Linked DNA regions of Homo sapiens: regions 1 and 2 are each linked to region 3. Evidence: fine-mapped expression QTL. A gene starts in region 3. Each other region holds a variant in brackets. All regions are shown on one strand. Distances are from middle to middle.

Region 1 (8,251 bases), 33 kb before region 3:
AGACAAACAAAAGCTAAGGGATTTCATCAGCACCAGGCCTATCCTATAAGAAATGATAAAGAAAGTACTTCAGTCTGAAAGAAAAGTATGCTAATGAACAATAAGAAATCATCTGAAGGCACAAAACTCACTAGTGATAGTAAGTGCACAGAAAAACACAGAATATTATAACATTATAATTGTGGTGTATAAGTATATCTTGAGTAGAAAGACTAAAAGATAAACTAGTCAAAAAAACTATAACAACTTTTCAAGACATAGTACAATAAGATATAAACAGAAAAGAAAAAGTTTAAAATCAGGGGATGAAGTTAAAGCATACAGTTGTTATTACTTTTCTCTTTACTTGTTTGTTTATGCAATTGGTGTTAAGTTGTGATCAGTTTAAAATAATGAGTGTATTATCTACAAGCCTCATGGTAACCCCAAATCAAAAAACATAAAACATATACACACAAAAAAAGCAAGAAATTAAAACACACCACCAGATAAAAATAACCTTCACTAAAAGGAAGATAGGAAGGAAAGACCACAATACAGCCAGAAAAAAACAACAAAATGGTAGGAGTGAGTTCTTACTTATCAATAATAACATTTAATGTAAATGGACACAATTCAATAAAAAAACTTAGAATGGCTGAATGGATGAAAAAAACAAGACCCAATGATCTGTTGCCTAAAAGAAATACACTTCACCTATAAAAACACACACAGACTGAAAATAAAGGAATGGAAAAAGATACTCCATGTAAATGGAAACCAAAAAAAAGCAGGAGTAGCTATACTTACATGAGACAACATATATTTCAAGACAAAAACTGTAAGAGGAAACAAAGGTCACTATATAATGATAAAGGGGTCAATTCAGCAAGACAATATAACAACTGTAAATATATATGCACCCAACACTGAAAACTCTCTGAGACATTGGCTAGGCAAAAACTTCTTGAGTAATATTCCACAAGCACAGGAAACCAAAGCAAAAATGGACAAATGTGATCACATCAAGTTAAAAAGCTTCTGTACAGCAAAGGCAACAATCAACAAAGTGAGGAGACAAGCCACAGAATGAGGGAAAATATTTGCAAACTACCCATATGATGGCAGATAAATAACCAGAGCTAAAACAACTCTATAGGAAAAATATCTAATAATCTGGTTTAAAAACAGGCAAAGGATCTGACATTTCTCAAAAGAAGACATACAAATGGCAAACAGGTTTATGAAAAGATGCTCAACATCACTGATTATCAGATAAATGTAAGTGAAAACTACAATGAGGTAGCATCCCACCCCAGTTAAAATGACTTTTATCCAAAAGACAGGCAATAGCAAATGCTGCTGAGGATGTGGACAAATGGGAACCCTTATGTCCTGTTGAGGGGACTGTAAATTAATACAGCCACTATGGAGAACAGTTTGGAGGTTCCTCAAAAAACTAAAAATATACTTACCATATGATTCAGCAATTCCACTGCTAGGTATATACTCCCAAAAAGGAAATTGGCATATCAAAGAGCTATCTGCACTCCCATGTTTGTTGCAGCACCATTCACAATAGTCAAGATCTGGAAGCAACTTACATGTCCATCAACAGATGAATGGATAAAGAAAATACATTCTGTAATCACAGCACTTTGGGAGGCTGAGGCGAGCTGATCACTGGAGCCCAGGAATTTGAGACCAGCCTGGGCAACACAGTGAAACCCCATCTCTACAAAAAGTACAAAAATCCTGGACATGGTGGCATGTGTCTGTAGTCCCAACTACCTGGGAGGCTTAGGTGGGAGGATCACCTGAGCCTGGAGAAGTTGAGGCTGCAATGAGCCATGATGGCACCACTGCACCCAAGCCTGGGTGACAGAGTGAGAGCCTGTCTCAAAAAAAGAAGAGAGAGAGAGAGAGAGAGAGAGAGAGGGAGGGAGGGAGGGAGGGAGGGAGGGAGGGAGGGAGAGAGAAAGAAAGAAGGAAGGAAAGAAGGAAGGAAGGAAGGAAGGAAGGAAGGAAGGAAAGAAAGAAAGAAAGAAAGAAAGAAAGAAAGAAAGAAAGAAAGAAAGAAAGAAAGAAAGAAAAATGTGATACATATACACAGTGGAGTACTATTCAGCCATATAAAAGAATGAGATCCTAAATGAAATCCTGTCATCTGCAACAGCAGGGATGGCACTGGAGGTATTTACGTTAAGTGAAATAAGCCAGACACAGAAAGATAAACTTCACATGTTCTCACTTTTTTCTGGGAGATAAAAATTAAAACCATGGAATTCATAGAGATAGAGAATAGAATGAAAGCTGCAAGAGGCTGGGAAGGGTTGGGGAGGATGAAGTAGGGATGATTAATGGACACAAAAATATAGTTAGATAGAATAAATAAGATCTAGTGTTTGATAGTACAACAGGGTGACTACAGTCAACAATAATTTATTATGCCTTTTAAAGTAACAAAGACACTATAATTGGATTGTTTGTAACAGAAAGAAAAGATACATGCCTGAGGTGATGGATAGCCCATTTACTGTGATGTAATTATGACTCATTGTATGGCTGTATCAAAATATCTCATGTACCCCATAAATATTTATACCACTATGTACCCATAAAAATTGAAAATTAAAAATTAAAAAATATAAATCCTTGTAGGCTGCTTTAGGGATAAACCATTGGCTCAAATAGGTAAAACAGATGAAATACGCTTCCATACCGTGGCACAGCAGACACAGGCTGAGAAGCAGTTTGAATAACAAGCACAACTTCTAATGCAGAGAAGATGTACTTGTCTTGTATAACAGTTTCTGCCAGTTTAATGTGGACCTAAAACACATAAAAGTGCTATAAAATAATATCTTCAAAACTGTCATACTTTTTAAAATGACAATTATGAAAAATAAATGTTGAAGTTACATTTTAATAGGAAAGCTGGATCATGCCCAACACTGGGCCAGACAGGAGAAATTCTACATAGAAAAAAGGAAGGCAGGACATATGAAATAGAGAAAGGAAGAAAAATCATGAATGTGAGATAATGAATTATGTGCTACAACAGCTGACCTCACTGCTCAAATATAGCACATAATTCATGAGTCATGACATTACCATGAATGCCTTCTTGCAGAATTCACAACTGAGCAGCATTGGCAACCTCTGAATATGGTGTTGTTTCTTTCTTTCAAAAGACAACACATCTGATGAACAGTAATTTTATTTACTCAAGAGATATGTTGCTAAAGAGCTGTATACAGATTTTTGTACAGGTAACATATTTTAAATGCACTAGGGTGTCTAGCTTTATGAATGAAATGCTCAAGTGCATATTTTGTTTTTGTTTTTGTTTTTGTTTTTGTTTTGAGATGGAGTTTTACTCTGTCATCCAGGCTGGATTGCAGTGGCAAAACCTCAGCTCACCGCAACATCCGCCTCCTGGGTTCAAGCAATTCTCCTACCTCAGCTTCCCAAGTAGCTGGGATTACAGGCATGCGCCACCATGCCCAGCTAATTTTTGTATTTTTAGTAGAGACGGGGTTTCACCATGTTGGCCAGGCTGATCTCGAACTCCAGACCTCAGGTGATCTGTCCACCTCGACCTCCCAAAGTGCTGGGATTACAGGTGTGAGCCATCAAGTGCATACTTTATAAAGTGAATAATACAGCCCTTGCCCTGACCCTCTCTTCATTTATGTGTACAAGATTAAACAGATGGTTTGTGTTTGCATGCAGGCATGTGCATGTTTAAATAGTTTAAAGAACCACTCAGGTATCAAGTCAGCAAATGAATCAGAAGTGATTAAAAATCACATAAAATTTTTACTAAGACAAGATAAAGTTGGTGTCTGTCTAGGCAAGTATATGCAAAATCTTTTTCTTTCAGATGCCTCAGTGCCCATTCAGAAGATTGATGGAAAAAACATATGAGGTGTATGTTTTTGAAATTTTGAATTTTGAAAATCAAATTTTTGAAGATTAAAATTTCAAAGTTAAATTTTGAAAACTAAAAATTAAAAAATATAAATCCATGAAGTCACATGAAAATAACAGAAATATATAGACAGGGACAGAGCTTCTCAAAAAACAGGGTCCATGCCCCATTCTCAGGGTCCCTAAAACTATAAGAGAATTTATATAGGTTTTGATTTTTATGATAACCTAATCCTCAGCTCCCATCATGTTCACTAAATTATTATTTAGAAATAGAAAAACTTCTATTTTACAGAGATAGTTTACAGTTAAAAGACATTTTTTCGGCATTATTTTCATCCATCTATTCTCAACTGAGTTCTGTGGCTCACTGAAGTTGTATTAGTCTATGTGAATTTTTCTCTTTTAAAAGGGAGTTGTAATCCTGTTGTACTGAATTTGAATGGGAAGGATCAATATGAACTTGTGAAGCATTTTATCTTACTCTGCCCATTAAATTGGCCTAGAAATAATGAGCAACCTAGTAGTCCCAATAGATTGAGGTCATTAAATACCATTTCTCACTTAAAGAAACTAAGAGAACCTCTCAGGGGAAGTAGCTGATTCCAGGTCAAAAGTAGAAAATATAAAGGATGAACCTGGAACATCTCATCACACCAGAAGCAAAGGAGCTATCAAAGAGCACAAGGAGTATGTCAAAAGGAATCAGGGCCACCTTTAATAGGCTCCTACTGTCCAAAATGAAATGGATTAAAATATATCAAATGTGCTTAAATTCACAGTACTAAAGTCAATAGTAACAATAAAACTTGCCTTTCTCACTGGTTACCCCCTGGAGGGTGTGAGCAAACCAACTCCTTATTTTGAAAACTGGTAAATAAAAAGAAAGAATCAAACATTTACTCTGCCTTGCTAGTATAAATTATATGTCAAGTAACCAGAGAGTTGACAAGTGTTTC[T/C]CCTTATAGAAGTCCAGCTAATAAATGAGGGAATAGTAAAATCTGAATGTCATCATTTTTAAATCCCAATAAATTAATACACTTAGAAAAAGCACTTATGAAATAATATTGCCAAAAATCATCTAAATGGAGTCCATTGAAGCTTCTACATCTGTCTACTAATTTATATAAAACACAGAGAACAGAGAGCATATGAAATGACAGTACAGGGGACAATCAGCAAAACCCAGACTAAACTTTAGGGATAAAGAACATCCTACAGGAAAAATCAACCATTTTTTCCTCAACAAATAAATTACTAAGGGAAAAGACAGATAACAGAAAAGATTAATAAAATAAGCGTTATCCAGGTGTAATGCCCATCTATTTTGCATATGTACAACTCCTAAAGCCATTACTTACACACACACTCACACATTATATGTGCATATTTAAACAAAAAATGTTGCTTTAAAACTTACTAGGAAACAATGACAGTTTTAGAATACAGTGTCTTATGATTAGGAAACTATAAAATAGTGTGAGCCCTCACTCCCGGGAAATAAAGCAAATCTGGAAAGCTTAGGACACGAATGCTCATCTGGGGCACAAGTATTCCTTGGGAGAAGTTTAGAATTGCTGGGAGTCATATAATTTGCAAAAGCTTGGTTAATAATACGTTCACATTTGGAAAATTAAAAAAATTAATGTATATAATAATATTACAGAGTCAACATTTTGACTCTGTAATATTAATAATTATCCATATAATAATATTACAGAGTCAACCAACCACCAGAGCCTATGCTGAATGTTATATATATTACATAACAGCCACAGGAAAAGGTATTAGTATCCCTATTTCTCAGAAGACAGAAACTGACCTTTCCAAGGCTATATAGCTAGTAAAAATAAACATATACACTCACCATCTCAATACGTTCAGAAAAAGCATTTCACAAAACTCAACTCCCATTCATAATAAAAACTCTCAACAAACTAGAAATAGAAGGAAAGTTGATGAAGAGCATCTGCAAAAAACCTGTAGCTAACACCGCACTTAATGGTGAAAGACCACTTCTCTCATCATTTCAATTATTTCAATTCAATATTGGTGGTCCTAGCCCATGTAATAAGGAAAGAGGAGAGGGGAGAGGGGAGAGGGGAGAGGGGAAAGGAGAGGGAGAAAGAGAAAGAGAGAGAGAGAGAAAGAAAGAAAGAGAAAGAGAGAGAGAAATAAAGTTGGTTTCTTCATTTGCAGATGACATAATCTGCAGATGACATAATCTATGTAGAAAATACCGAGGAATATACCAAAGTGATAAAACTAATAACTGAGTTTAACAAGGTCACAAGATACAACGTCAATATATGAAATGCAATGACATTTTAATATACTAGCAATGAACAGCTGGAAGTTGAAATTAAAAAGAAAATACTAAAAACGTGACATACTTAGGAAAAAAAACATTGCTGAGAGAAATTAAGGAAGATCTAAAGAAATGGAAAGATATACCATGTTCATGGGTTGGAAAATTCAGTATTATTAAGGCATCAATTATGCCCCAAATGATCCATAGATTCAACATAATACCAATCAAAATCCCAGCAGACTTCTCTGTAGAAACTGACAAGTAGATTATAAAAGTTATATGGAAATGCTAAAATCTGATTCTAAAATCTACAAGAAAATGCAAAGTTGGAGGACTCATACTACCTGATTACAAAACTTAGTATAAAGCTACAGTAATCAAGACAGTGTGATATTAACACAGGATAGACATATAAATCAAAGAAACAAAATGAAGTCCAGAAACAGACCCACCATATATGGTAAGATGATTTTCAACAAAACTGTTAAGGTAATTCAATATGGAAATGATAATCTTTTCAAAAAAGGGGTATTAGAACTGAATATTCATATGTGAAAAAAATCAATCGTTCTCTCTCACTATTCACAAAAATTAACTTAAAATGGGCCAGAGACTTAAATTTAAGAGCTAAAGCTATAAAAGTTCCAGAAGAAAACATAGCAGAAAAATCTTTGTAACTTTGGGCTAGGTGAAGATTTCCTTTTATTTTTTATTTATTTATTTTTTGACAGAGTCTCTCGCTCTGTCATCCAGGCTGGAGTGCCGTGGCGTGATCTCGGCTCACTGCAACTTCCGCCTCCCGGATTCAACCGATTCTCCTGCTTCAGCCTCCCAAGTAGTTGGGACTACAGGCACACGCCACCACACCTGGCTAATTTTTTGTATTTTAGTAGAGATGGGGTTTCACCATGTTGCCCAGGCATGAAGACTTCTTAAACAGGACACAAAAAATGTACAAACTATAAAAGCAGAAGTTAATAATTTGCACATCACCAAAATTAAAAGCTTCCATCCTTTGAAAGACAGTGTTAGGAAAATAAGATGAGTCATTGACTAGAGATAATATTTGCAAAACACCTATGTGATAAAAGACTTATACCTGGAATACATAAACAACCCTTACAACTCAATAAGATGACAAACAAGCCACTGAAAATATAACCAAAAGATTTAAACAGATGCTTTAGTACAGAAAAGATATGATTGGACAATAAGCCCATAAAAAGACACTCAACATCATTAGTCATCAGGGAAATGCAATGCATTATCTCTACCACTTAACTAGAATACCTAAAACTAAAAAGCCTGAAAATTCCAAGTGTTGACAAGGATGCAGAACAACTGGAAATCTCATAAGTTGCTGGTGGGAAATCAAAATGGAAGAACCACTTTGGAAAACAGTTTGGCAATCTAGTGGTTAATTTTATGAATTAAATTGGCAGAGCCACAGTGCCCAGATACTTGGTCAAATATCATTCTATATGTTTTTGTGAAAGAGAGAGAGAGAGATAGAGAGAGATAGAGAGAAATAAAGTTGGTTTCTTCATTTGCAGATGAAGGTTTTTTTTTGAGGAGATTAACATTTAAATGGTAGACTTTGAGTAAAGCAGATTGCCCACTATAATATAAGTGGGCTTCATACAATCAGTTGAAGGCATTACGAGAACAGACTGACTACCGCCTGAACAAGAAGGAATTCTCCCAGCAGACTGCCTTTGAATTTGAACTGCAACTCTTCCCTGGGTCTCCAGCCTTCCAGCTTGCTCTGTGGATTTTGGACTTACCAAACCTCCACAATCACACGAACCAATTCCTTCAGCTAAATCAACCAGCTGATCTCTATATATACATATATGTGTATACACACACACCCCCGCCACAAACACACACACACACACACACACACCCCTCCTCCCCCCTCCACACACAGCCTGTTGGTTCTGTTTCTCTGGAGAACTCTGACTACTAATATAGGCAGTTTTTAAATCAAATTAAACAAATACTCTGCACTTACATTTGATCCAGCAA
Region 2 (8,251 bases), 50 kb before region 3:
GTTCAGCCAGACAACTGTCAACACCAAATTTTTGAGATTTATATCTCATTTTTTAAAAATTGTGGTAATATATAATATGAAATTTACCGATTTAACCATATTTAGATATACAATGGCATTATGTACACTCACACTGTTGTGCGACTTTCCCTCCTTTTAAATCTTACTTTCTTGCCAATCAGAAGATCAAGTTTGGGTGTTTATGGACATAAAGCTAGCAGTGCTAAAGTTCTGGCCTCCCCATGCTTCATCATCAAGCTTAAACACACACACACAGCCCTCCTAGGTAGACTAACCTAAGAGCAGCAAATACATTTTCTTAAATCTCAACTTTAATTGCTTGGTAATGTATGCCTGGAATACTGTGTAGGAACAGTACCATGACTGAATAGTGTTGTTTGCCTCAGGTGTGGGATGGGATAATGGCGCCATGCAAGTTGCATATTTATCATTTCCGAGCTAGTCATTTTAGTACAGGTCCATAGAAATTGAACACAGCTCAGGCACTCTGGTAAACACACACAATAGACACTAACTTGGTGGAACATCCCCAGGTCTTCTCAGACTCTTCATTGGCTCCCTACAGAAGCCATGCATTGACACCAGTGACTTTTCTAGGAACCACTCAGCTTCTCTTGACTCAATTTAATTCACTCAACATTTAGTGTGTTTGCGCGATGCACAAGAGACACTGTTCTAGATGCTGGAATGATTAAAGTGTAAGTAGAATAATTTCCAACCAACTCAAAGCTCACAATATGGAAGGATGCTAATGAAGGCAAGTACTTGAATAATTGTTCTATGAGGAAGGATATGATACTTTCCATGGAAAGAGACCAATGAAACGGAGGTATGAAGTAAATCAAGATGGCGGCCAGTCATACTCAACCAAGGCTGATGTGGCTATGAAAAATCAGACGGTTATGACAAGTAGAATCAGACAAGGGCACCAGGTAGGGCAGAACCAGATAGAGACAAGGAGCCATCATGGCTCAGGCCAGAAAAGAACCCAGCCTGAGAGTGAATTCACTGAAACAAAGAGAGGTGAGGGCTCAAGATTTGTCATAAGAAATTCTTAGCAATATATTTTCAGCCTTTGTTTTTAAAGATACATTACATAGAGGAAAAGGGTAAAAACTTGTTAGAGGCAGAAGAAATGGATTTACATCGTAACCCTGCCCCCTACTAGCTGGGGTATCTTAGGTCTAAGTCTCTCAACTTTTCCAAACCTCTTATCTTCAAAATAAGGACAATATCTACCCCATGGGCTGTGTGAAAAGTTAATGGAGATGCAGTCTGCAGAGCAGCTAGTGAAGTATTTGGCATATGGCAGGTACCTAACATATTTTGGTTCTTTTCATTTAAGGGGGTTCTAAGTAGCATTGTGGACTACAAAACCACATCAGTCAACTCTGTTTAATGAAACAGAGTATTTGTTATTTTGAGGCAATTGAAAGGAAATTTAAGTCCCCACTCTCAAGGAAGTTATCTAGGAGTGGAGAGAAGGAAACAGATATCTTAAAAAGCCATAATAAAAGAAATTACATTCATGAAAATGACCCCATAATATACAGATTACTTTGAAAACACACTCTGAGTCATTCATGAAGACTGACAGAACTATAGAAGCAACTGGAAAGGTCTTTGTAAATTAGGGAAGGAAATATGAGACACATAAATACTATAAACACATTTGCTATTTCGGCCCTACTATTTACTAGCTGTGTGACCTTGTGCAAACTGCTTAACCTCTCTGAATCTCTATTCCCTCAGCCATAAAGAACAAATGAATCTCTCTCCTGCTTATCTCACATGGGTGTTTTAAAACTCAAAGTATGCAGATGGGCTCTGCCAACTATCAAGAGCCATACAAAGGCAGGGCATCATTATTACCATTGTCTCAAAGAGCACACAAAAAATCAGTTATTCAGACACAGGCTCCCTCCCCAACTCACTTGTGCTTGGATTGGGAAAAACAGAGAAGCCAAGTTGAATTTTTCCCTGCTTAAACAATAAAACCTGCCTTATGAGAAAGTTTGAGCATAACACAGAGTCATGTCTTAAATTCTGGAGTTTCATGCATGTGGTCTAAATTAATTATTCGCATTGACAGAGGCAGTCAGACTGCCCCCACATATGTAACAGAGATGCACATACACACACATTATGTTCTGCTGAATGACATAAACTGCAACTTTTCCATTCCATGTTCGCACAGCCAGCATTTTCTGATAAAAATAAAAATTTGTATTCTCGGTTTCTACGTGAAAAGTTACCTGAAATCTCTAGAACATGAGGGAACAAAAGATTCCCAATACCCAAAACAAGCAATTAAATACTGAACTGAAAACAGTCTTCCCTTAACATCTTGGTCTCAAAGCCCTGTCTGTCTTCTGGAAAACTAGGTCCTTGCTCCCAGCATTGCCTCTTCCTCCCTCACCACGTTAGATCTGGCAGTTAGTACTGGTAGCTTCCAATTTCTCCTGAGGACGGTCTAGTCGTTTTCTTTTTTTAATTCTCAAAGCCAGGGCAAAGTCTGAAATAAATTCTAGCCGCATTTTCCCCCTGCAAATTGGTATTACCAGTCTTCAGCAAGAAAATGAGAGGATATAAGGTACACACTAAGCTAGGAAAATGGGTTGTGGCCAGCATGCCAGTGAGGTTGAGCTTATCCCTAGAGACTGATGGTCAGAGAGACAGAGTGCCGGCCAGGCATGGTGGCTCACACCTGTAATCCCAGCACTTTGGGAGGCCGAGGCAGGCAGATCTGAGGTCAGGAGTTCAAGACCAGCCTAGCCAGCATGGTGAAACCCTGTCTCTACTAAAATACAAAAATTAGCTGGGCATGGTGGCATGTGCCTGTAGTCCTAGCTACTTGGGAGGCTGAGGCAGGAGAATTGCTTGAACCCGGGAGGCGGAGGTTGCAGTGAGCCGAGATCGTACCACTGCACTCCAGCCTGGGCGACAGAGCGAGACTCCATCTCAAAAAAAACAAAACAAAACTGAGAGACAGAGTGCCACCTCTTCCTTCTACAGATAGCAAGGAGAAACCCAAGGGGTCCGAAAGTGGCTGCAGGGTCCTTTCCCAGTCATTTAAATTCACTCCATCTCTGCATGGAGATGCCATGGAGGGAGGTGTTACAGTGTGCAGGCTCGGGCTGGTGCGGTCACACGAAGGAGCTGCACAGTTGGACGACAGTGAAGCTCCAGAAATGAAGCAGCAGCAGCAAGGCTTGGGTAGCAGCATGCGGCGGTCCTGCATGTGGGCTTAAATCCAAAGGCCCGGGAGCTGAGACTGAACCTGGGCTCTGCCTTATATTAACTGTAGCATGGTGGGCAAGTTACACAACCTCTCAGTGCTTCAGTTTCCTGATCTGTAAAATGGAGTTGGATAGGACTTTTGGTAAAAATCAGAGATTGGCACAAAGTAAGCATTCATAAAATGGTAGCTGTTATTATCACCAGTGAAGGGAATTTAACTAAAAATACGGAAACCTAAAGGTGCTGGCTGCCTGGCCATCTAGTCATCTTGATGCCAGTGGGATTTCTTAAAGTGCTAGCTCCACAGGTATCACTTCATGTAAGATTACGTGAATTATATTAAATGTAGCACAATAATGACTTCATTACCTTGTTTTCTGGTACTTCAACACCACTGAAATTCCTGCCAAACCTGTGGCCTCTCTGTGGCCCTATGTTGAGTGATGTCCAACCACCTTTCCAGTCAACCAGCCTAGAAATCCAGAGTAAAAGCATAAAAGCCAATGACAACTTCTTATCCATGGAGAAACTGTATGGTGCAGTGGCTGAGTGCATGGCTCTTGAGTCAGACTGCTCCGGTTCAAGTCCTGGCCCATCACTTATTAACTGTG[G/A]GTCTATGAGCAAGTTATTTATTCTCTTTGTGCCTCAGTTTCCACATCTGTAAAACATGTACAATAACAGCTTCACAATATTCACAACAGCAGTTGTGGGATCAAATAAATTCATATATATATCAAGTACTTATTAATAGAACAGTTCCTGGCACAAGGCACTAAGTGGGTATTGGCCATCATTACAACTCTTCTTTATGAATATAACAGAAAAATACAAGCGAGTCAGGCTCAGAAGCCTCCTAAGGCAAATGTTTTGTGATCTTTAATCTGCTTCCTACTAGTGAATAAACCATAGCATTTGGCAGAAATAAAGCAGTTAATTGGAACGCAGTGTTGGCTATGATTAGCAACAAACCATGTTCTCCCGTCCCAGATGGCAAACTGATAAATAGCATAGATGTTGCCTCCCAGTCCATCAGAGCCAGAAGGATCTTAAAGATCACCTGATAGTGGCCACCAAACCTGAGGAGCATCAAAATCAACTGGGGAGCTTTCCAAAAAACACAGACTCCTTAAGCCCAGACTCTGAAATTATCTCAATTGGTCTGGGATGGGCCCCAGGAATCTGGGGATGTCACCCATATGTGAGATCTATGGATTAAATCCATTCTCCTCCTGTCAAAGATGATAAAAATAAGAACCAGCAGAATAAGCCCACTTGCCCTATGACTCACAGTGTGTAAGAGGCAGAGCAAAGCTCAGGTGTGCCACACATCTCCTCCAGCAAAATCATCTCTAGAAAGTGAAACAAAGAAATGAATCCTACACCAAGGGCTTAATCTCCAAAGGTGATTAAATATGAGCATGTCTGTGTCTAGTTCCTTATAGGAGCAGGTAGGTCTGGCTAGGTTTCATGGGTTCTTCCATTAGCAGAGGGAAGTGCTGTTGGAAAATGTTCCTGGTCTTTGAAGTCATTCAGTAACAAGAGCATCTAAGGCCAGTGCAAATTAAATCAAAGTCTGTTTTTATACCTTTTTATTCCAAGTGGCTTTTTAATAGAGACCAAGTCATAAGAAAAAAAAAAGAAACAAAGAAAGAAAAGAAAATCTATTGGAGAAGTAAAGGAGGCATTTGGGAATAAAGGGAAATAAGGCCTTATTTGAACCTACAGAGTCACCCTCACGTCATCTATGTCATTGCAGCCTCGGGCCTTGCAATGTGTCTGTACTTCTGTACGTCCAAGAACAACTTATTCAGAGCCTGTGAACTAAATTCCTGTCAAGCTAAAGATTTTTCCCTGGAAATTTTGGTAGGGATGATTGGTATAATTTCCCAACTTCTCATGACAAACCCTTCTGATGTTTGGAAAGCAGCTCATTATCAGCTGTGGTTTTGGCAATCACAGCACATAGAAACAGCATGCATTGTCTTCATGATTAGCACAGGCAGCAACAGAATCTGCAAGAATGACTTCATAATTCAAGTGTCCACACTCTTGGCAGAGCTAGGGGTCCTCTCCAAAGACTGTCCAGGGGTCCCACTAGAAAGATCTGACATGATCTTTGGCTCAAATGGCAAAATTGTACTTGAAAACTCTGGAAAACAGCAAGTTTAAGAGCAGCTCATAGGCACCCCACCCAAAAACCTACATTATCAATCTACAGTTGTTTTGAAACATGGATCTTGGGGGAGAGTGCTGGGAGTCTACTGCGCTTTCATTTACTCTGGTTTACTGACCTGAGGCTGCAATGAAATAGATAAGGGTGATTCTGCAGGTTCAAGGAGAGCCTCATTTTCCTTTATTCCCAAATGGTGCCTCCTCCACTTCTCCTATAGATTTTCTTTTTTTTCTTTTTTTTTTTAAAGACTTGCTCTCTGTTAAAAAGCAGAAAACTTATGGACGAGTGGTACTTTTAGCTTTTGCATATCCTCTTCTCAAAGAGGGTTTGATAGAAGACAGCTGGGGACAAGCTTGAAGTCACAGAGGGAAGAAGACGATTTAAAGCAGGAAGTGGATGGGTCAAAGAAAATGCTCCCCAACCTCACAATTTTGCAAGAGCTGGCCCTGACTAGATCTAATTGTTCTTTACACCAATTGTTCTCAATTTTAATGCATATAAAAACCAGCTCGGGAGGGTGTGTAAAAATGCAGATTCCTAAACTCCAAACTTTGGGAGTCTGGTTTGGGAGGCTTGGGGTGGAGTCCAGGAACCCACATTCTAACAGGCTCCCTGGCCATGTGGATGCACATATTTGACCCCAACACTGGAGAACACAGTTGACACTCTTGAGGATGTTCAAAACAAAACTGGTGGATTGCTTGTTGCTTTTAGCTTTATGACCTTGAGTAGGTCATCTTAACGTCTAATTCTCCCTTTGTGTGTTGTAATACCTCTCTTATCTTGCTGTAATACCTCTCTGACATGGATATACATGAGGTAGGTATAAGTGTATTTTTAGAAATGTAAAAGCAACATAAAATTTAAAACATAAATCATCATAATCCATTTTTTTCCATTTTCATTCATTTTTAACCTATCTTTAGAACATGCTGGCAAATTGCTTCTGAGGATTCCGAATATGAAATAAAAAGTTCCCAGAGGTTCAGATTATGATACTGTGCAGTTTGGGACAGCTTTCAGTGAAAATCAAACAGTCTCTAAATATAATAAAGAGCAGCACGAATTTACAATACAGTGAGTTTTAAATAGGCAGCCACACTGCATAAGACCAACATAAGGATGGGCAGAAATATGCCTAAGATTAAAACATCCTACACACTTACAGAGCAAGTAATGTTCATTCTTACTGTGCCAGGCAGTTTGCTCAGACCCAAGCAAGATCCCAAATGAAAAACACATTCAATTTTGAAACAAATTTTATAGTTACAAAAATTTAATTTTCTTCTATTATTAATTATTAAAGAAAGTGCCCACAAAACAGCATTTTTCTTTGAAAGCATGAGGGGCTATGCTCAGTCCCTGCTGGTATCCTCACTAGGTATTGAATATAGTCACCTCCACCATGACTCCACAGAGCTTGGGTGAGGTGCCCAGCAGGTCAAAATGACTGGTTTCTCACTCTCACCTGAATTAGACCTGCCTCATTTGAAGACATTCAAATATGTCCTAATTTTAGAGGGCAATCCATTGAAGTCAAGTTTCCAAGAAATTACATCAGTCTTTGCAACAAATTTACAATGGCATGACCAAAACTTGGTTCTTGAGCAAGGGTTTTAAAACAAAGCATGATGATTTACAGTTCAAGTTCTCACAAATGCAGAGAAACCCAGGTGCAAAGGTGAGTTTAGATAGACATCAACAATAAATTAAAAGTGCATCAAATTCTCTTTCTCCACTGTCAAACTGAGACATGTTTTTCCTGGTTTTTATTCCTATTGAAAAGGAAAAATAGGGCATGACCAGCCTTTGTTACAGATATTTAATTGCTAACAACCAACCCACAGCAACAGCCTGCTAATAGGTTTCTTGCCTCCATAGTTCCTTCATGGAGCTCACATTCCAGAGATCTTTGGATTTTATCTGTGCTTAAGATAAATTCAAATTCCTTCCTCTGTCTTATAGGGCTCTGCACAACATGGTCTTTATTTGGGACCACTTTCCCCATTCCTAGTACATTGGCCACAAAAGCCTGTACCTGTCTTCAAACACATCGAGCTTGCACCACTGTTCCTTCTGGAATGTTTTCCCAGGACTGCTCCTTTTTGACAATGGGATCTTTGTTCAAAGTCTGTATATTTCACTGAGACCTTCTTGTCCCACCCAGTTTAATGTAGCTGTATGATCACTCTTTGTCATGATGCCCTAATTAATTCTCTGCATAGGATTTAACTGCAGCTGATAGTTTTATTGAACATTTACATTTTTGCTCATTATTTTCTTCCTCAAATGAAATACAAGCTTCACAGGAAGAGGGATCTTGTCTGAACTGAGCATTGCAGCATCCCTTGTCCCTAGAACTGTTCCTAGCACATAGGAGGCCCAAAAAGATTTGCTGGCTCGGTGAATATGGAGAACACTGAGGTTGCCTGATTAATGTTCAATCTTGAAGAAATCTTAGGGTTCAAGCATTAATTAGGCTTAGAGATATGCCACTCACAGACTCAATTAGTTTAAATCACTGTCCTCTGCTGGGCTAATTTAGTTAAAATATATCTCAAGCTTTTCATTTGTTCTTTGTAAAATTTAATATTAAGCATATTATTAGAAAAGCATTACTAAAATTTGAAACATATTCCAACGACTTTAAGAGGTTTTGACTCAATGCACAACCATCAACTTGAATATACAAGAGAGCAACATATGTCACTGGGCTTGAGTTCATCACTGCCTAAATTACTCTCTGTTAATAAATTCAGCAGATTAATTCTTAAGCACATTCTTTGGGCAGTATATCCAGTGCTACCCTGATGGTCC
Region 3 (8,046 bases):
TTTTCACTGCTTTCCATTTCCCTTCCCCCACGCCTCCCTTCAACCCTTGCCCCTGGCTGCCACTTCCACCTACCACAAAGACAATCAAGGAAATCCAAGAGTCAAATCCAATGGCTTTGCCTTGGTTGCACCGTCACCCATGGGGTGTGCTGTGTGAGTGACAGGGGCTCTCCTCACCCCTTCCAGCTTCCATGACACTGTACCACTTCACTTCCATCATTTTTCTCCAATTGCCCCTTGTTTAACGTGGTTCCTGTCCTCTTCTTTCTCTTTCCCCTCCAACATACAGACATCCCTCAAGGATCCTATCCTTACTTTTGCTTCTTCTTTCTTCATTTTCTTTATCAGTGATTCCTGGGATATGAAAATCGCTCCTAAGCAGATGACCTACAAATCTCCTGGTAGCTCTAACCTCCCTCTGTATTCTAGTCCCTTAACTTGGACAAGCCTGTCATGCTCAAAAAGAAACTTCTCTCCTCTTCCTTATCCTCTGTTATATCTTCTTTCTGAAAATGACCCAACTGCTCTCTCAGCTAAGCCTGACAATGATCTTTTGGCCTCCCTTTTCCCTTCCTCACTTTCCAGTGACTGTTCAAGCTCCTCAGATAATTCCCGCACACCACCTCTTAGGTGTGTTCCCTTCTTGCCTCCCACTGCCTCTTTCCATCTTTCCCCTACTTTGACAATAGAGTCTATCTGGTCTCCCTCCTGCCAGCCTTTTCCCATGTCATTCCATCCAACATAATACTACAAAAGTATTGCCCCAAAGCACAGTTCTGATACTGTCAATCTTTCTCCTCACAAATCTTCTATAGTTCCCCAGTCCTTACTGAACAAAATCCACACTCCTTAGCTTGGCGTACAAGTTGCTCCACCACCTTGAACAAACCTCTCTTTCTTGCTTTATCCCTCATTACATCTCTTGGCATTCCTAGCGCTTCAGCCAAAGCACACCATTTTTTTGTTTCCTGTGTAGGCATACACCTTCCACTGCCAGGCCTGTGCTACACTGTTCCTCCCCCAAGCATGCCCTTCCTTCTCTGCCAACCCAAATGCCACCTTAATCACAGCTCAAATGCTATATCCCATGTAACCTTCCCTAATTCTTCCATCAGAAGTCACTTTGTACCCTGTGAACTCCCACAGCTCTGCAGGAATACTGCTTTTTCAGCACTTAATCATTTTTCACTATTTTTACAGTTAGTAACATATTTCCTCTTTTCTCCTTCTAGATCATGATCCACCTCTGGCCAGGATCTAAGACTTAGCATTCTTTGAACCTCCAACCCTTCTCAACATTCCCTGTCCCCTATCCAAAGGTACAGTGGATCTGAGATGCGGGAGGCAATTAACAAATGTTTGCAAATTAATTATTGTAACCCAGAGAGTTAACTTCAGATTTTACGGCTTGAAATTCTCTCAATTTTAGCAACAATTACTTCTTCTTTCTAGGATAAAAGTCCTATCTCCCCAAGGTACTACAGTTAATTCCTTTTGGCCCCAGAGGTCAATTTTCAAATATCTCTTACCCCTAAGTCTTCCGAAACAAACAAACACAATAACAACAAAACAAAACAAAACAACAACAACAAAAAACCTTAAGAGGCTCAATAATGGAAGAGAAAAGCACTGATGCTACTTTAAGTGAAGGAAAGGCATCCATGCACAAAAAATGGCTTGCTGCAGGCCACAGCAAAAGGTACCACCATTTATTAGAGCTGTCTCATTAACCTTATACCAGTCCGATCTTTAGAAAAGCCAGATATTGCATTTTTAAAACTATCAGCCTGGGCAGCATAGCGAGACTCTATCTCTGAAAAAAATAAACAAATATCTGGGTGTGGTGCCATGTGCCTATTGTCCCAGCTACTCAGGAGGCTGAGGCAGGAGGATTGCTTGAGCTAGGAGTTTGAGGCTGCAGTGAGCTATGATCACACTACTGCACTCCAGCCTGGGCGACAGAGGAAGATCCTGTCTCAAAAAGACAAATAAAAATAAAAATGATCACATTTACATTAGAAAAGAACTGATTCCTGAGTCATCGATTTTGCTGCTGTGTAATTCCTCTTTCTCTAAACAGGGTATTTACCTGGTAATTCCTCATATTATTAAACTTTCTTGTGAGACATTTACATCCCTGGTCTTACTTGCAAATATAAAGGATGATGACTTTTTTTTAAACCAAAATCTCTTAGAATGGCTTTTAAATTCCCTAAGTACTTTTCTCAGAAAGACATTTGGCATAACAAATAAGAGAGTAAAGAACTAAGATTCAAAATTCATTTTTATAAATCTATCCTTAAATCTTGGATGACAGCCAACAACCAACCTCACATTAAAATCTTAGAAGGCTTGACTTGAAGAACATGGGGAAATTTACTTTACATAGACAGCTTCAAGAGCACCTTGTCTATATATCATTAAATAAGATACATGGGAAGAAAAAAAAGCATATGTGGATAGCCCTAGTTTTATTATTTTCACAACGATATCATGCAATCTTTGCCCATAAAAGAAAGCAAAACAAAAATTTTAAAAAAGAAAAATAAATCTCTGGTGCCAACATGTTGTATATTTACTTGTGTAGCCATGACTGCTACGGGCTTTTCGAAGAGAACCGGGCAGCCAGTTTGGATTCCGACAATGCAGTAGAATTTAAGGTGTTATGACTAAAACATGTCCTAAGCAGATTAAGCTAGTCATACAACATTTTAATAAAGAAGTGTCGAGATATTAAGTGTAAAGTGCACTCATTCCTATGAATACCGCAGGAGAAACATAGGTGAGGGGGAATCACACTGCCCTGGATACACATGAATATGCCATCTCCCTGCCTACCTCTACCCAACCCTACCTACACACACCTATCTTTACCACGCAGAGACAATTAAACAGCCATAGACTCTGGATGCATTTCTGTGTCCTTGTTCCCACTGGGTGAGTTGTTGCCAGCCTGACATTTTTCCAAATTCCCTACTAGTGGGCTCTATCAGGTAGGAAAGCAGGGACTTTACTGACCTGGGACCCCATCGCTGTGGGTCTCAGGAGATTTCAGTTTCCAAATGATACACGGCACCACCTAGCTATTGTGACAGCTGGGAGAGTGGATGTCACCAGCAGTAGAAATAAAGTATCCTGTTTCCTGAGGAAAACGCCCTGGCTGTGTGATGCTGACCAAGTGGGCACCAAACATTTCTCCGTGTGATATTTTTCTTCTTTTTAAAAGACCGCCCCCCGCCCCACCGCATCTCTCTATACGTATACACCTCCAGAGTTCATTCTAAAAGAACCAACACAAAGACCATCCATCCTCTAGCCATAAGGTTTTCAGTGCTTAAATGTGGAAGGAGAAGGTCTAGCTAGCATTGAAAGTTGTGGGGACAGGAAGAGGAATCTGATCATTCAACATCCTTCTCCTTCTGGTCAGACAAGAGAAAAACAATAGAAACTGCACAGTCAGGGAGTACAAGACCCTTATGGAACAGGTGCTAAGGAGAGAAGTAGTATCACAGGATGGAAGGCCCCTTCAAAACCAGGTACATTAGCAAGCCCAGAATGTGTAACGGTTATCCTATTTCCCTGCCATGTGCCTCAAAGCAACATGCTCACTTCCACATCCCCATGTCATGAGGCCAGAGGAAGGGGAAGCGAGAATCCCTACACTGGGCCATCCACACGCAGGAGCAGAACAGACACTGTGCTCAGAGTTGCAGGGTCAAAATAACAAACACTGTCCCACAGTCTTAGCCGGTGACATCAAGTAAGGGCAGCGGCAGATCTCTGGATTTGGGGCGCAGTTTGGGGAACGTGGATGCAACCACACGCGTACACACACATATACAGGATTTTACAAACCGGCCCCTATCCCACTGCCTCCCTCCACACTTCACACACCAAGTGCATCCTGCCCACCTCACCGTTTCCATCATCACATTCTTTCTCCAGGAGAGTCAGCCGAGAGATGAGGGGGTCCTAGCGGGGATTCCTGGAAATGTCACCCCCCAACACCTCCGTCCGCCACCCCATCCCCTCTGCTGTACCTTTTACACACACACTCTCACACACTCACTCCTGCCATGACTGTCATCAGGCCCGCCTGCTGCGCCCGAAGCCCGGCATCTCAGCGGGCACCGGACCCCAGGCGTCTCGCTCGCAACGCCGCCTTCCCCCGCCTCGCTAGCTGATGGTTCCAGGCACTGCCTCCTGGATGTCGCCTGCTGCCTCCGCTCCTCCGCACTATTGTTCCAGGCAGCCCCTCTCGCGTCCGGGGGCGCCCTTTGGCGAGGACCCGGGCTCCGTCGGGGGCCGCATCAGCGCCGGGCACCCCTTCTCACCCACCCCTCCCTGGCTGTGGTACCTTGCCTGACAGCTGGGTCCGCGGGCCCGCGGGAGCAGGCGGCGCTAGTGACAGCGCTGGTGCCAAGCCTGGGAATAAAGCTCCGCTCCAGCCGCTGCTGCCTCCAGCGCCACCATCTTCTCCCGCCGCAGCTGCCGCCGCCGCCGCCGCCGCCGGGACCGCAGCCGCCCTCGCCCAGCTCCGGCTCCGCAGCCGCTGCTCGGACCCCTCCGGTCTCGCGGCCCCACCCCCTTTCCCCACCCTCCCTCCCGCCCTCCAGCTAGCTCGCTGGCCCCTCGTGACGCGCGCTGGGGCCGGGCGGGCCTGCGAGGGAGGGCGCGGGGGAGCGCGCGCGCGCACGCCGCCTGCTAGTAGCGCCCCTGCCTCCCTCGCCCACTCGCGTGCGCGCGCGGCCCGCGAGCCCGCGGCGGCGGCGGCGGCACCGCTGATGTCCTCCGTGGGCCGCCGGCTGCAGCGCCCCTGCCCCGGCGCCGGTGGGCGTGCGGCACACCCGCGCCTCTCGCCTTCCCTCGCGTCCGGGTTCCGAAGGGCCCGCCCTGCCTTTCGGAATGGGTTCCACAGCCCCATCCTCTGGCTCCCGGCCGGACGCAAGGAGGGGAAAATGCAGCTGCATCCCCGAGGGGACTGACGGGGGCCTCCACCCTCCTCGGTGGCAACCCAGGTGGTCCCCAGTTTCCTAGCCAGCAGCTGTGGCCAACCTCTGCGCGAAGCAACGGGCCACGCTGCAGGACCACGAAGCCAGGCAGCCGCGTCGACTCCTGCAGGGTGTTCTCTCCGGAGTGACTCCCGAGCTTTCCCGCTTCCCAGGCCCCTTAGATATCGCCTGCGCTTCAAATTCGGAGATTGACGGCGTCTCCGGAATGCGTCGCAGTCCTGCGAGTTCTCCGCCAGGGGGAGAGCCGCGCGGGCTTGGGCCTGAGCGAAGACAGCCGGGCTGCAGCCCTCCAGGGGAACTGCCGAGTCCCGCCGGGGACAGCGGAGAGCCTGCGGATTGTGAAGCCGAGGAAGGCTCGGCTTGGTTTTCCTACCCGCTCCTCAGTTCTGGTTGATCGGAACTTAAGTGTCTTTGAGCCTAGCACAGGCCATCCGCCCTAGATATGGCTCCTAACTCGAGAGGCCACCCTTTGCGGCAGGGACCAGGTGGCAAGTGCTGTGCATTAATGAAAAGCTGTGGGCTAGACAGGCCCCGGGAGGCCTGGGCTCTGGCGCCAGCCCCACCTGTAATTGGCAATGCAATAGCTAAATCATTCCCCCTCTTAGAAACACAGATTTTTCCATAATAATGTTATAATGCACAAAGCCTTGTAGTTTGCAAAGCCCTCTCCGCACATGTATTCTCCAGTAAAATGAAGATAAGCGCTGGTTATCCAGATCCCTTGGGAAATGGATCTTTTACCACACCGTGTTTCCATATTATTTTAAGCACGTCTCTAGAGAAGTCTGGGGGTGTAGCCTAAAGCATTCTGAAAGTCTTGTTTTAGCTTTAAAATTCATATGAATTTTGCATTGTACTTTGTAATTTTTTTTTGCTTTAATAAAACAATAGCTACCTTCTCAAAAAGATTTTAGTAAAATTTAAAATTATATACTAGGAAGATGTCTGCTTGTCCTGTGACATTACTCATATTTTTTCCGGTGAATACTTATTTGGCATATGTACGAGCCAGACATGGTCCTTTTCCACCAGAGCTCACAGTACGCTGAAGGAAATAGGTATTCAACTATCAGACTGGCCAGGCGCGGTGGCTCACGCCTGTAATCCCAGCACTTTGGGAGGCTGAGTCCAGCAGATCACTTTAGGCCAAAAGTTTGAGATCAGCCTGGTCAACATGGCGAAACCCTGTCTCTACTAAAAACACAAAAATTAGCCGGGCGTGTTGGTGCACGCCTGTAATCCTAGCTACTCGGGAAGCTGAGGCACGAGAATGCTTGAACCGGGAGGCGGAGGTTGCAGTGAGCCGAGATCGCGCTACTGCACTCCAGCCTTGGTGTCTCAAAAAACAAACAAACAAATAAAACAATCAGACTAAGTGCAACTGTGATAAATTCTCAACTGCAAAGGCGCTAAGGTGCACGGGAAAACCTAATGTGGACTCTGGGACTAGGTAAGGCTTTCTAAGGAAATGACATTTCAGATCCCCCAGGAGAGGCAGCATTGAGACACTTCCAGGTAAAGGGAAGGAAATGTGAAAAGGCCCAAGCAGGTGGGGCCGAAGTGAGATGAGACTGGAGAGGCAGGCAGACTTTGTGGACCGTTTTTAAATAATGATTTTGTCTTATGAGCCTGGAAAGTCAATGAAGGGTTGCCAAGAGTTGGGAGCAGGCAAGCAGGATCACATTTCCGTTCCTGAAAGATGGCTGAGGTGGTTTGTGAGGAACTGATTCGTGGAGGGTCAGGATCCAGGGCGGAGAGAGTCTGAGCTTATCCTACTTAGTGAGTGTTTAGGGTTTTCTGTTTTTGCACTAACTGCTCTTTTGATTGTTTTTAGTTCTTGCCTCTGCTCTCCTGTGTACGCATCTAGGAGGCTTTCAGAGTGCTTCTCTGTAATAGTTTCTGTTTTGTTACTTTTAATCCACTGCAGTTTTAGGAAGGAAATGAACCCTGTTAGAATTTCAGGTTAAATAAGAGAATATAGGTTCTGAGTGAGAGGCTCTTTTCTGTGCATACACTTATTGCCATTTGGTTTGCTATCTCAGAGATCTTTCTGCTTATTTTCTACTTTTTGTGTTGCCTTTCCAGTTAGACTAGGTTCTTAGATGCATGAATAAGGGTTACATTATTGCTTTAATAATATCCTGGAATCTTACCTCGCAGGATTTTTGTGTAAAGAAAGTTATGTGAAATTTCTCTGCAAAGTATTCAGTGCCATATAAAGAAAGGTAATAATTGTTAGTTATAATGGTAGCTTAGAGACCTCCAAAACTAATTACTTACCAAATGTTCATATGTGGAAATTTCCCTCCCTCCCCCACCCCCATGAAAAACACATATTCCTATTTCTTCTGGATAGCATGAATCATTGTCTTAAGTGCTCTTGTTACTCTGTGCCTTCGCTGGCAGGAAACTCAAAGCCAAATTTTCAGATCATTGTAGGAAATGAGTGGATCCATATGGCATGTAGATCCATGTCTTAATCCCTCCTTTGGTCTTGTTCTATTCTATTTATAGATTTCCTGTGCCTGCTTTATTGATGTTTTTCTTTTTAGTAGATCTCTTATAAGGCACTCCAATCCACCACTCCAATCCACCTTCTCCTGTTAACAGGGTCGAAACTGCTATTCAAGTGTTTCAGGAAGCAGTATATAAAATACTGGCAGCCAGGCATGGTGGCTCATGCCTGTAATCCCAGCACTTTGGGAGGCCAACGTGGGAGGATTGCTGGGGAGTTCAAGACCAGCTTGGGCAACATAGTAAGACCCCCGTCTCTCAAAAAAAAAAAAAAATTAGTGGGCATGGTGGCGAATTCCTGCAGTCCTAGCTACTTGGGAGGCTGAGATGGGAGGATTGCTTTAATCCAGGAGGTTGAGGCTGCAGTAAGCTATAATTGTGCCATAGCATTTCTGCCTGGGTGATAGAGCAAGACCATGTCACTAAAAATAAAACACTGGCAACCTGCCAACCATTGAAGCAGGTAACAATAGTATAGACACTGTGCCAAGTGACTTGGGTTTAAAGTAAAGCCTTAACC

Evidence for each region. PIP is the estimated chance that this variant, and not a neighbour inherited with it, causes the effect.
Region 1: its variant is fine-mapped to the expression of APBA1 in whole blood (TOPMed, PIP 0.97).
Region 2: its variant is fine-mapped to the expression of APBA1 in whole blood (TOPMed, PIP 0.94).

Annotation. Positions count from the first base shown.
Region 1 is chr9:69,634,915-69,643,165 of GRCh38, forward strand. The region is part of intron 1 of APBA1 (amyloid beta precursor protein binding family A member 1); the gene reads right to left. Among named protein-coding and RNA genes, the nearest start is that of APBA1, 33 kb to the right of the region's middle. The variant T/C (reference allele first, on the strand shown) is at 4,872.
Region 2 is chr9:69,617,693-69,625,943 of GRCh38, forward strand. All of the region lies in intron 1 of APBA1 (amyloid beta precursor protein binding family A member 1), which reads right to left. Among named protein-coding and RNA genes, the nearest start is that of APBA1, 51 kb to the right of the region's middle. The variant G/A (reference allele first, on the strand shown) is at 3,873.
Region 3 is chr9:69,667,796-69,675,841 of GRCh38, forward strand. APBA1 (amyloid beta precursor protein binding family A member 1) reads right to left here and starts at 4,576. Exons shown (of 13, transcript NM_001163.4): 1 at 4,358-4,576. RefSeq lists silencers at 4,344-4,423, 4,604-4,653.